2 separate regions of the Homo sapiens genome follow, and region 2 is linked to region 1. The links come from fine-mapping of genetic effects on gene expression. Tissue or cell type: testis. Region 1 holds a variant in brackets; the other region holds the start of a gene. All regions are shown on one strand. Distances are from middle to middle.

Evidence for each region. PIP is the estimated chance that this variant, and not a neighbour inherited with it, causes the effect.
Region 2: it holds the start of CD86, and the variant in region 1 is fine-mapped to the expression of CD86 in testis (GTEx, PIP 0.98).

The regions. Positions count from the first base shown.
Region 1 is chr3:122,009,363-122,014,629 of GRCh38, forward strand. All of the region lies in intron 1 of ILDR1 (immunoglobulin like domain containing receptor 1), which reads right to left. Among named protein-coding and RNA genes, the nearest start is that of ILDR1, 10 kb to the right of the region's middle. RefSeq lists an enhancer at 3,483-3,532. The variant A/C (reference allele first, on the strand shown) is at 3,072.
Region 2 is chr3:122,052,789-122,057,788 of GRCh38, forward strand. CD86 (CD86 molecule) reads left to right here and starts at 2,574. Exons shown (of 7, transcript NM_175862.5): 1 at 2,574-2,715. The coding sequence starts at 2,702. It also overlaps a transcript of ILDR1 not described here.

The sequences.
Region 1 (5,267 bases):
ACAGGCTTTAGATTCAGATACAGCTGGGTTCAAATTAAACTTTAATATTTACTTGAATTTTGGACAAGTTATTTACTCTCTCTCTGAGCTAGTTTCTCAGCCATGAATGAAGATGATGATAGTGCTAGCCTTATCAGGTCCTTGCAAGAATGCAATGAGATAATCTACTGTCCTTGGCATGAAGCCTTGCACATACACTGCCACATTAGTGTCAGTATGTGAGTCTCTTCCTTTTTTTCCCCTTATTACGAGGGCCAAGGAGAAAGAGGTTGGAGTTGGGGTTTTCTCCAACAGAGTTTTCAAACGGAGCCACCTTCATTTTGACCAAGGTACTCCCACAAACAAAACAAATGTAGTTATTATCCTACGGAGCAGCTAGGTGGGCCTGTCTTGAACGCTAGAGCACATGATTCTTGGGTCCTGCCTGACCTACTGGTCACAGCCCTTGTAAGACTGTCCCCTTAAACTTCTGATAGGCACCTGCATCTGGGTTTCTCACATCCATAGACAGACAGCAGAATGCTGCTCAGGACAGGCACTCACAGAAATGACCTGACCACCTATCTCCAGGACTGGGCTGTGATGCAGATGCCCCATGGCAGATGTGCTGGATAGAGACTCTGCGGCAGTGCAGGCGAGAGCTGTGGGCAGGAAGACTTCATGAAAGGAAATGATTTAACCTAGGCTCCAAGAAGCAGGTAGAACTAAGATCACGCATGAGAAGTAGGAAGAAGGCAGAGAAACTCATTGTTTCAGTAAGCAAGAAAGGAGGGAGCAAAGAGCCTTATTAGGAAGGGGCAGTTACTTGGGTAACCTGGGGGAAACCAATCTAGCTGTGTCTCCAGCTTTATGGAAAACAGAGAAGATAAATAAGGCGGGGCTGGTGGTGGTGAGTGGGAGGTGGGGCGATGGGGTGAAGTCTAAATCACAATCCAGTTCAATTTCTTGTCCATGGATCATCACTGAAGTCTTTTCTGAAGAACAGTAATACAGTGAAAGTGGTGTTTTTAGGAAGATAGATGACTTCCCCACTCAGCTGTAAATGAAAAAAAAATATATATCATTTTAAAAATAAACCTTGAGTGGTTTTGGGAAAAAAAGCTGCTGTCTCCGTAAGCTGTAGAGTCCCAGAAATCAGGCCAATTAGAATGGAAGGGCCGGTGACCAGCATCTCAAGCCTAACATGGCTTTCTTAATCTAATTTTTGGTTCTTGTTCTTTCTCTGTGACTACCCCTTTGTGTGTTTTTTGTTTTTTGTTTGTTTGTTTCTTTTCTTCCAGAACTGACCTGAAATAGACCTTGGAGATCTCACCAACCACAGTTTTATCTGAATAGTAGAAGCAGCCACAGATAAGATTTTCACAATGAATAGGTTGCCATTGTCAACACTGGCTTATTTTGTTCCATAACACACATACCGATGAGAAGAGAGAGGAAAACACTGATATTGGTCTAAATAAAATCTTAGGTTCAACAGCATCTTCAAATATATTCTTTTATATACTAAATGTGATACCTGGGAGAAGATTAGCTGTGCTCACTTCCTGTACAACAAATCTGAGGCTTGGAAATTTAAGGGACTTGTCTGTGGTCATTCGTTTTTTCTAAGGGGGTCAGAGTCGAGATTCTGTCCCTGAGCAGTGCTCCTGCCTCTCAGCTTGGCTATTCTTTAAATAAAAGATAATTGGTATTCACAAGTTTGCAAATAATTTGAGCTGGGGGCCAGGCTATGTGAGCAATAATTAAAATATAACTGGTGCAGTCACTCTGACACAGTAAAATAAAGAACATGTAGGCTCCTTATTTGGCTGAATGTAATTTGATATAAATAGCAGTTTAATCAACACTCTAGTCAATATCACCTGTATAGAGGTAGCGCATTTGGGAGCAGGGAGACCAGGTTTGCTGGGGGTCAGAAAAAGGAATTTGGTTAGAGTCAGAAATTGCTGTGGGGTAGCTTTGAAGATTGCAGAATCTGACACCCTTGAGGAGGGGAAATGGGGAGAAAGGTGATCACTCAGCTCCCCTTCCATGAATGCCCTTATTGTGGACAAACCACATTTGGGGTGACAAAACTCACCTTTACCAACGTCAGCACTGACTTTGCTGCTTGGGTACTCTTTTATCTTCTCTTCTATTTCATCCCTGTGTGAATATCAAGCCTTGATATCTGCCAGGTTCAACAAGTTCTGGCCATCTTGAGCTCATTCACACTCTCTCCAGGGGTCTGCCAGCCAGCCCCACAGCATCCTGTGCAGACCTCAAACGTCCACCCCCTGCCCTGTCTCTCTTTCTCTCTCTCTCTCTCTCTCTTTCACACACACACACACACACGGGAAGAGTCCCAGGAGAAGAGGTACTGAACAACCCAGCAAACTCTTCTCCCATATCTCAGTTGTTGCTGTGGGTCCTTAGCATCTATTATGCACCGGGTGATGTACATTCTTGGTCTCTAAATCTCACAAACCCCCTCAGCTAGGCAACAGCCCTGCTCATATAGGTGGGCAGAAGTTCAGCTCAGAGTATAAGCCACACCCCCACGTGTCCAACATCACATACCTAAAAAGTGTCAGCATCAGGATTTGAGCTTGGGCCTTGCTGACAACAAATCCCAATTTTTCCCAAGCAAGCAAGCTTGATCTTCCAAAGTAGAAGTCAGGCGCCAGGCTCTTAAAAAGCAGTCAGATTTTCCAGATTGGGAAGGAAAGGCAGTAGCAAGACAGTCCATCTCAAAGGCAAAAATCACCCACTTTCTTTTCCTATATCCTCTAACTTCTCTGTAAACCTAACCACACTGGGCATGCACAGAACTAAGCAGGTGGAGTTTTCAAGAAAGGACCCAAAGCAGCAAATCAGGCTGAAAATGTGAACAGGATCAAAAAAGAGAAACGTCCTGATTGTAGTCATCCTGGTTGCAACTTTGCTCTTTCAGGCTTACTACAAGTTTTCAAATTCTTAATTTTTTTTCTATTCTTAAAATTCCTTTATCCTGTGGAATTTTCTCCTCCCCAGTTCATTGACTCCTCATTTCCTAGCTGTCTCTATCATTTTCTCTCAAAAATGTTAATTCT[A/C]GAACCTGACTCCCTGAGTTCAGATTCTGTCTCCAATCCCTAACAGCTGAATGGTAATGTAATATAAACAGCAGTTTATTAAACACTCTAGTCAACATTAGTTGCTGGGGGTCAGAAAAGGGAATTTGGTTAGAGTCAGAAGTTGACCTAGCAAGTTATTTCCAAACTATTGTTTTCCTTTGTATGCAAAACTGAGATGAAGATAATACCTGCCTCAGAGGGTTGTGGTGAGCATAAAAAAATGTCCCCCATTTAGCAAAGAGCCTGGCACATATAGACATTCAACAAACCTAAGCTATCATTTGTATCATTTGTACTTATCTTGACTACTTCAGGAGTTCCAGATCCACTGAGACTAGCATGTAAAAGCATTTTGAAAAAATGATACAAATGTAAACTATCATGATTGTCTTCTCTTTGCAAAATGAGTTGGTGCCTCAAAAGCTTCAAAAGTTTCATAGCTTTGTACCCTGGTGGACTCATTCACAGCTTGCCAGGCTCTGTGAAAGAAGGGAAGGAGACCTGTCACATGGGTAGAAAGGAAACTTCAGATGAGATATCAGAGCTCATGGGAAGGAGAGAAGGGGAAGGGGATTCTCTGATTCCCGCCATCAGGTACTTTCCAAGGCCAGGCTGCTGTGCTGAGTGGGGACTACCATCCTACACTAAAACAGAAGGAAACACACCAACCAGGGCAGAGTATCTTTACAACTAAATGTCATCTGTTCCTAAATACATGCACATCTTTGCACATTTTTTTATTCCTCATTTCCTGTGTAGTATTAGATTTGGCAAGAAGGAGTTTTAGTTTGTAGAAGATACTCACACAGTATAGGAATACAGGTATATATTTTAAAATATTTTTAAAATTAAGAACTATTTTGAAGGACTAGATGGCACTTCCCCTCCTTTCCTATGAACAGGCCTGCTTGGAAGGGATGGTAGGCAGGAGGGTGAAGGCAGGTCTTTGCCGGCAAGGGGCAGTGGCCTGGGACTGACAGGAATTGATTCCTGAGTGTTTTTCAGGTATACAAGCACCCTGACTCCATGTGGCAGGTTAACAAAATGCACACAGGTTCAATGCTATCAGAGTTTATGGCTGAGCAGGCTATCTCACCAAGCATATTTACCATCAGTGCCTGTTACATTTCCTCAGATAACAGTGCAAATATGAGCGGAATCAAGGAGAAGAGGGACTAGCTATGAACAAGAAGGAGCAAGACAAGAAGTGACTAGCTATGGACAAGAAGAGACAAAGACAAGAGGGAGTGGTCACGAACAAGAAGGAAAGGATAGGGAGAGCAGAGAGAGGAGACCAGGAAAGCAGATGGGTGGGGAGCGGAATGATGTCTAGGTACTGTGTGTTTACCCAAGGTCTGGCATGCAACACTTAACAGTGCAGCACCCCGAGAAGGAAAGTGCTATGTGCTGAGCACTTACTATGTTGTTTGACACGGTATTGGGTGTTTTATTATACATTATCTCATTTAACCTTTGCAAGAAACTGATGAGATAAGCTTTACTTTCTCTCAATTTCATTGATGAGGAAAATTCTGAGAGATTAAGTAATCTGCTTAAGGCCACACAGCTAGAAAGTAGCAAAGCTGGATTTAAGCTTAGACCTCCACTACACTACCATGTCTTCTGGATAAGTTTTCTAAATGGTTGAGATTTAACCCTTTGAGGAATATTCACGCACTTAAGGGACATTCACAAATTTATTTTAATCATTTTGTACAGAAGCTCTTCTTCCTTTTTGTTTGTTAATACAAAATAAATAAGTGAGAAACTTCAAACAGTGGAGGGGGTATCAAGTAAAAAGTTCCTCCTTGCTCACCATGAATTCCACTTTCCAGAGGTACTGCTGTTGACAATTTGGTCTACATCCCTTCACATCTTTTCCTATGTTGTTTTTTTTAAATTAATCATATTATGTACATTGATTTGTGACTTTTTCTTCAAACTAATGATATATTGTATATCAGTATATGCAGATCTATTTTTTTTTAGTAACTGCATGAACATTTCACTCCATCAATGAGCCACTTTTATTTACACATTTTCCAAATTATGGACATTTAGGTTGTTTCTGACTTTTAAGTATTATAAGCAATGCTGGCATTAATTACTGAAATGAATATGATTATATAAGTACGTCTTCACATGCGTTCTTTTATTCCAGTAGAATATATATCT
Region 2 (5,000 bases), 43 kb after region 1:
AAACTCCTGACCTCAAGTGATCCGCCTGCCTTGGCCTCCCAAAGTGCTGGGATTACAGGCATGAGCCACCGCGCCCGGCCAAAAAGTCAGAACTTTGGATATATGGTCTAGTCTTCTCATTTCTTCTTCAGGGAGAAGCCAAAAACTGGGAATTTCCTCCTAACCATGTGGCCCTGTGCCGAGAGGACAGACTATGGTGAGGGTATACCGTGAATTTTCCTACTGGCTTCAGTGCAGTTGTTTTTTTTGCTCACCTAGTGTGATGTAGCCTCTTAGCCAGCTTCTGGATTTCTCACAAAAGGAATTGGTCTGTGTATAGTTAAGTTAGTGTCTCTCTGGGAGGGAGCACAGGCTGGGGTTTCTCATTCTGCCATCTTGCTGACGTTCACTGTGGTTTTGATTTGCATTTCCCTAATGACTAGTGGTTTTGAGCACATTTTCATGTGATATTGGCCATTTCTATATCTTCCTTGAAGAAATGTCTGTTCAACTCTTTTGCCTACTTTTTAATTGTTTGTTGTTTCTTCTGCAAAGTTGTAGGAGTTTTTTTAATCATATATTCTGGATATCAATCCCTAAACATTTATTGTTTTAAGGAAATAAATTTTGAGATAATTTGTTATACAGCAATGGATAACTAATAAATACTAAAAACTCCTAAATGTATATACTAAATATATTAATTAGAAAATTGTAATATAAAAATACTAAAAGCTAAAACTGTCTGATATTAGGAAGATAATTTTACTACAATATATACCTTTTTTGTGTGTATGAGACAAGGTCTCATTATGTTGCCCAAGATGTTCTCAAACTCCTGGGTTCAAGCAATCTTCCCACCTCAGCCTCCTGAGTAGCCAGGATTACAGGTATGTGCCATTACAGCCAGCTTTCACAGTGTATACTTGATGTACTATTAATGTACTATTTAATGACTACTAAAAAGTTTATGATAACAGGAGAAAATGCTTATGCTATCTTAAATAAAAATTTGAGTGTATGCATTGATACCAAGAAATGGAAATTTGAGTGTGTACACTGCTACCAAGAAACTGAAAAATGACATCCCATACCTTTAATATTTAATATTTATAACAAATGAGGTTTACATGGATTTTTTTATCTCATCTTATTTCTGATGTGTTATGTAGTTATAAATACTATTTTATTTGCACTCCTGCTCTGCAATAATTTTGAAGATAGATAACTTATATTATTGCTGTCTTCATTTTTTAAAATTCTCAAATCCAGATGAAATTATCAAAGTTGATAAAATAATCATTGTTCTATCTTCTTATTTGAAGATTAATAATTGTGTTGATTTTGCTTCCTTGCTCTAGTTAGCAGTGATGTCATCTGCTATTTTTAAACTTCCTTGAAATAATATATGTAATCTACTTCTAATAAGTTTTTCTTATTTAGCATTTTGGTCTAAACTAATTTATAATTATTTAGCCTTATTTCTCCATGTTTAACTTGCTTTAAAGCTCAGCACTGGTGTTTTCAGCCATGGCTTCTCCATTTTAAGGCTATTTTAATTCATTTATTATTCTGGAATATATCCTTAAATAATTTATTTAGGAAGGCTGTCTTGGTGGTGGTATTTCTGTTGCAGTTGTTGTTTTCTTGCCTGCTTGGTGACATATTTCTATTGACTTGACACTTAACTGGCATCTTATCTAGGTAGATAATGCTAATTCAAAATTCTGCAGATATTGTTCTGTTGTTTTTTGCCATTTAGGGTTGAGTAAGATGCCAAGTTGTTTTTTGTTTCTCTGTAGTCATTCTGTTTTCATTTTGTTTTTAGCTTTGCCTTTGGAATTTAAAATGTTCAAAATGATTTGTCTGGATGAGAATCGATTTTCATAACTTTTGCTTTGATACACTAAACAGTTTGAGTTTCTAGATGATGCCCATTTTAATTCATACGAGGAAATATCTTCTAGTATAGTTTCTGCTTGATTAATTCTATGTTTGTCTCTTAGGGACATCTATTAATTTTATAATGCTGCCTTTTTTTCAGACTTCTGTTTCAGAATATTCGCTTTCATCAATGTAATCCTTGGCTATAGTAGGAATGAAATAATAAAAGCAGTAGCTTCTGTCTGCCCTCCTTGGTTATGCAGTCCTTACAGAACATCTCCCCATCTCCCATCCCCCCACCCCAGCTCAGTGAAACTCTCCACACTTTGGTTGTGGAAATTGGCAGGGTTAGGTGGCTACTCACTCCCAATCCACATCCACAATAAATCACTTTTTATTATCTTATCAAAATCTGTAGAATGCCTCTTTATTCTATTTTGTTGCTGCGGAGGTTTGTTTTCTCTTTCTAATTATTTTATTTTCTAGGTTTTTTGAGGGAATTTCAAGAGGGGAGATTTTTTATTCAGGCTCATCTTAACGTCATGTCTGGAACTCAAGCTACTGAATTATATATTCTTTAATACATATAGACCTACGTCAATGAGTTTAAACTGCAAGGAAAGGGTTAAATTTCTTCCTCAAGTGTGGTCAAAATCTGTAGAGAAAAGAGGAACAGCTTCTCTTAAAGAAAGTTAGCTGGGTAGGTATACAGTCATTGCCGAGGAAGGCTTGCACAGGGTGAAAGCTTTGCTTCTCTGCTGCTGTAACAGGGACTAGCACAGACACACGGATGAGTGGGGTCATTTCCAGATATTAGGTCACAGCAGAAGCAGCCAAAATGGATCCCCAGTGGTGAGTAATAATTCTTATTCTTTGCAGAGAAGTTATGAGTTGTGACTGCAGTGAAAGGCTGAGGTTGAAGATGGTGCTTTGATGTGTGTCCTTCACTTAGTTCCTAAGTGGAGAAGCTTTCTTTTTCTACAAAAGATCTTTGGCACATAAAGGCAAGAATTATTTGCAATGCCCAAAGCAGTTCATTGGTGGTAGTTATATATATTTTTAGGTGCCTAATTTTGGTTTTGTAAATCTGTTATTCAAATACTGAATGTTACAGTCATTGATTTTAGTGAAGAATCAGGAATTTTTAAAATATCTGCATAAGAATGACAAATAACAGGGAATATGTTTTTTGTCTACCAGGGTCAGTTTGGTCTGAGGGTGGAGGAATGAGATAGAGAAGGTAGAGGGAGAGAGATCAAGAAAAAGAAAGAGAAAAAAGAGGTATAAGGAGAAAATGCAAAACTCAGTTAATATGTCATAATCAGGCCATGGGAGATTCTGGGCAGGGTTGGGTAGTGGAAGGAGGTAGAGTGATTAAATTAGTTACCATGTATTGAACATGCATGATGTGCTGGGTACTTTACTAGTGCTATTTCATTGAATTTTATTCTTCACAATGACTTTTGGAAAGACATCATCATTCTTTTTGACAGATGGGGTAACTGTGGCTTAAAAAACTTGCCCAAGTTCACACTATTCATAAGGGGTAGAGCTAAAATCTTTCCTGCCCGCTTCGTGGTGCGCCAGAAGGTTTCTCCATGCTGTGGAGACTTCCTGGAAGGAGTCACACCCGCCCTTCTCTTGGGTGGTGGCAGCTGGCGCCAGTCACTATGTATTTATTTATTTTTAATTATTTATTTTTGAAACAGAGTCTCGCTCTGTCGCCAAGCTGGAGTGCAGTGGCGCAATCTCAGCTCACTGCAACCTCCGCCTCTCGGATTCAAACGATTCTCCTTCCTCAGTCTCCTGAGTAGCTGGGACTACAGGCGCCCACCACCACGCCCGGCTAATTTTTGTATTTTTGGTAGAGACGGGGTCCACCATGTTGGCCAGGATGGTCTCGATCTCTTGACCTTGTGATCTGGCCACCTCGGCCTCCCAAAGTGCTGGGATTACAGGCGTGAGCCACCGCGCACCCGGCCGTCACTATGTATTTATAATTACTGTTCTTTGAAAATCGAAGTAACTTTCATCTACCCAGTGCTTACTGGTTTGAGAAAAAGCTTTGTTGCTTTTATTTCAGAAGATTAAAATTTAATTTTCCAGTAAAGATTCCTTTTGCTCCAGTGGAATTTTGAAGCGTTATACTTGTATGAAGAAAAAAAGAATTTCAAAATTTATAATTTTTGTGGTACCATAGAGGGGATACTACTTAATTATGCTAGCACTGTCTGCAGAGGTCTAAAAAACCATAGGCTGCTGTCTATATTGAACTTGTTAAGATTCCTTTTGTTTCACAGTGCCTGAAGATTGGTCATGAACCAGTAATAGCCATTAAACAATGTCTGTTCTCATAAGAGATGAAATAAATACAAATTAAAACAACAGTGAAGTATCATTTTTTCTCTATCAAAGAGATAAATATTAAGTTTTAAAAAGCAAGCAATCAAGAACCCTCTATCTTGCTAAGAAGGGAGGATTATTTGTACCCTAGTTGCGCACTAGTGGTGATATCATCTTTCTGGACAATAATCTAGTGATACATATCAAAAGCCTTTAAAATGTATATGCCCTTTAACCAAGCAATTCACCTTTTAGGAATTTATTCTAAGATATAATAATACATGTTTGTAAAGTTTTAGTGATGGATATTTTTCTTGCTATTGTTTCTAATAAGGAAAATCTTAGAAACAATTTACGTGTTTAAAAACAAGTGATTGGATGATTATGGAACATCCATAATGGAATACCATGTAATTATTTAAAATTCCACTGTAGAACAATTCATAATGTGTTTAGTTAAAGGGGAAAAATGCAGAACGAACAGTGCTATCACTTTTATACATGATACATGTATACAAACAATATTAATCAGAAATATAGGTAGTTTGTATTTTCTACTGTGTGCTTTTCAATTTGAATCCCATCTGTAGGCAGAAAAATAAAGTTAAATATTTAAGATTTAAAAAAAACAATAGCTGGTTTTTTTCAGAGAAGTAACCATCTAGTGATGTGTGATAATTTATAAGTTGTGAGATTCCATAGTTAGGGCTTTAGCCCTTTGCATTTATCTTTCTTCATCTCTTGAATCCTCTTCAAAATACACCCACTCTACCCATAACTCATTAGATCTTGAA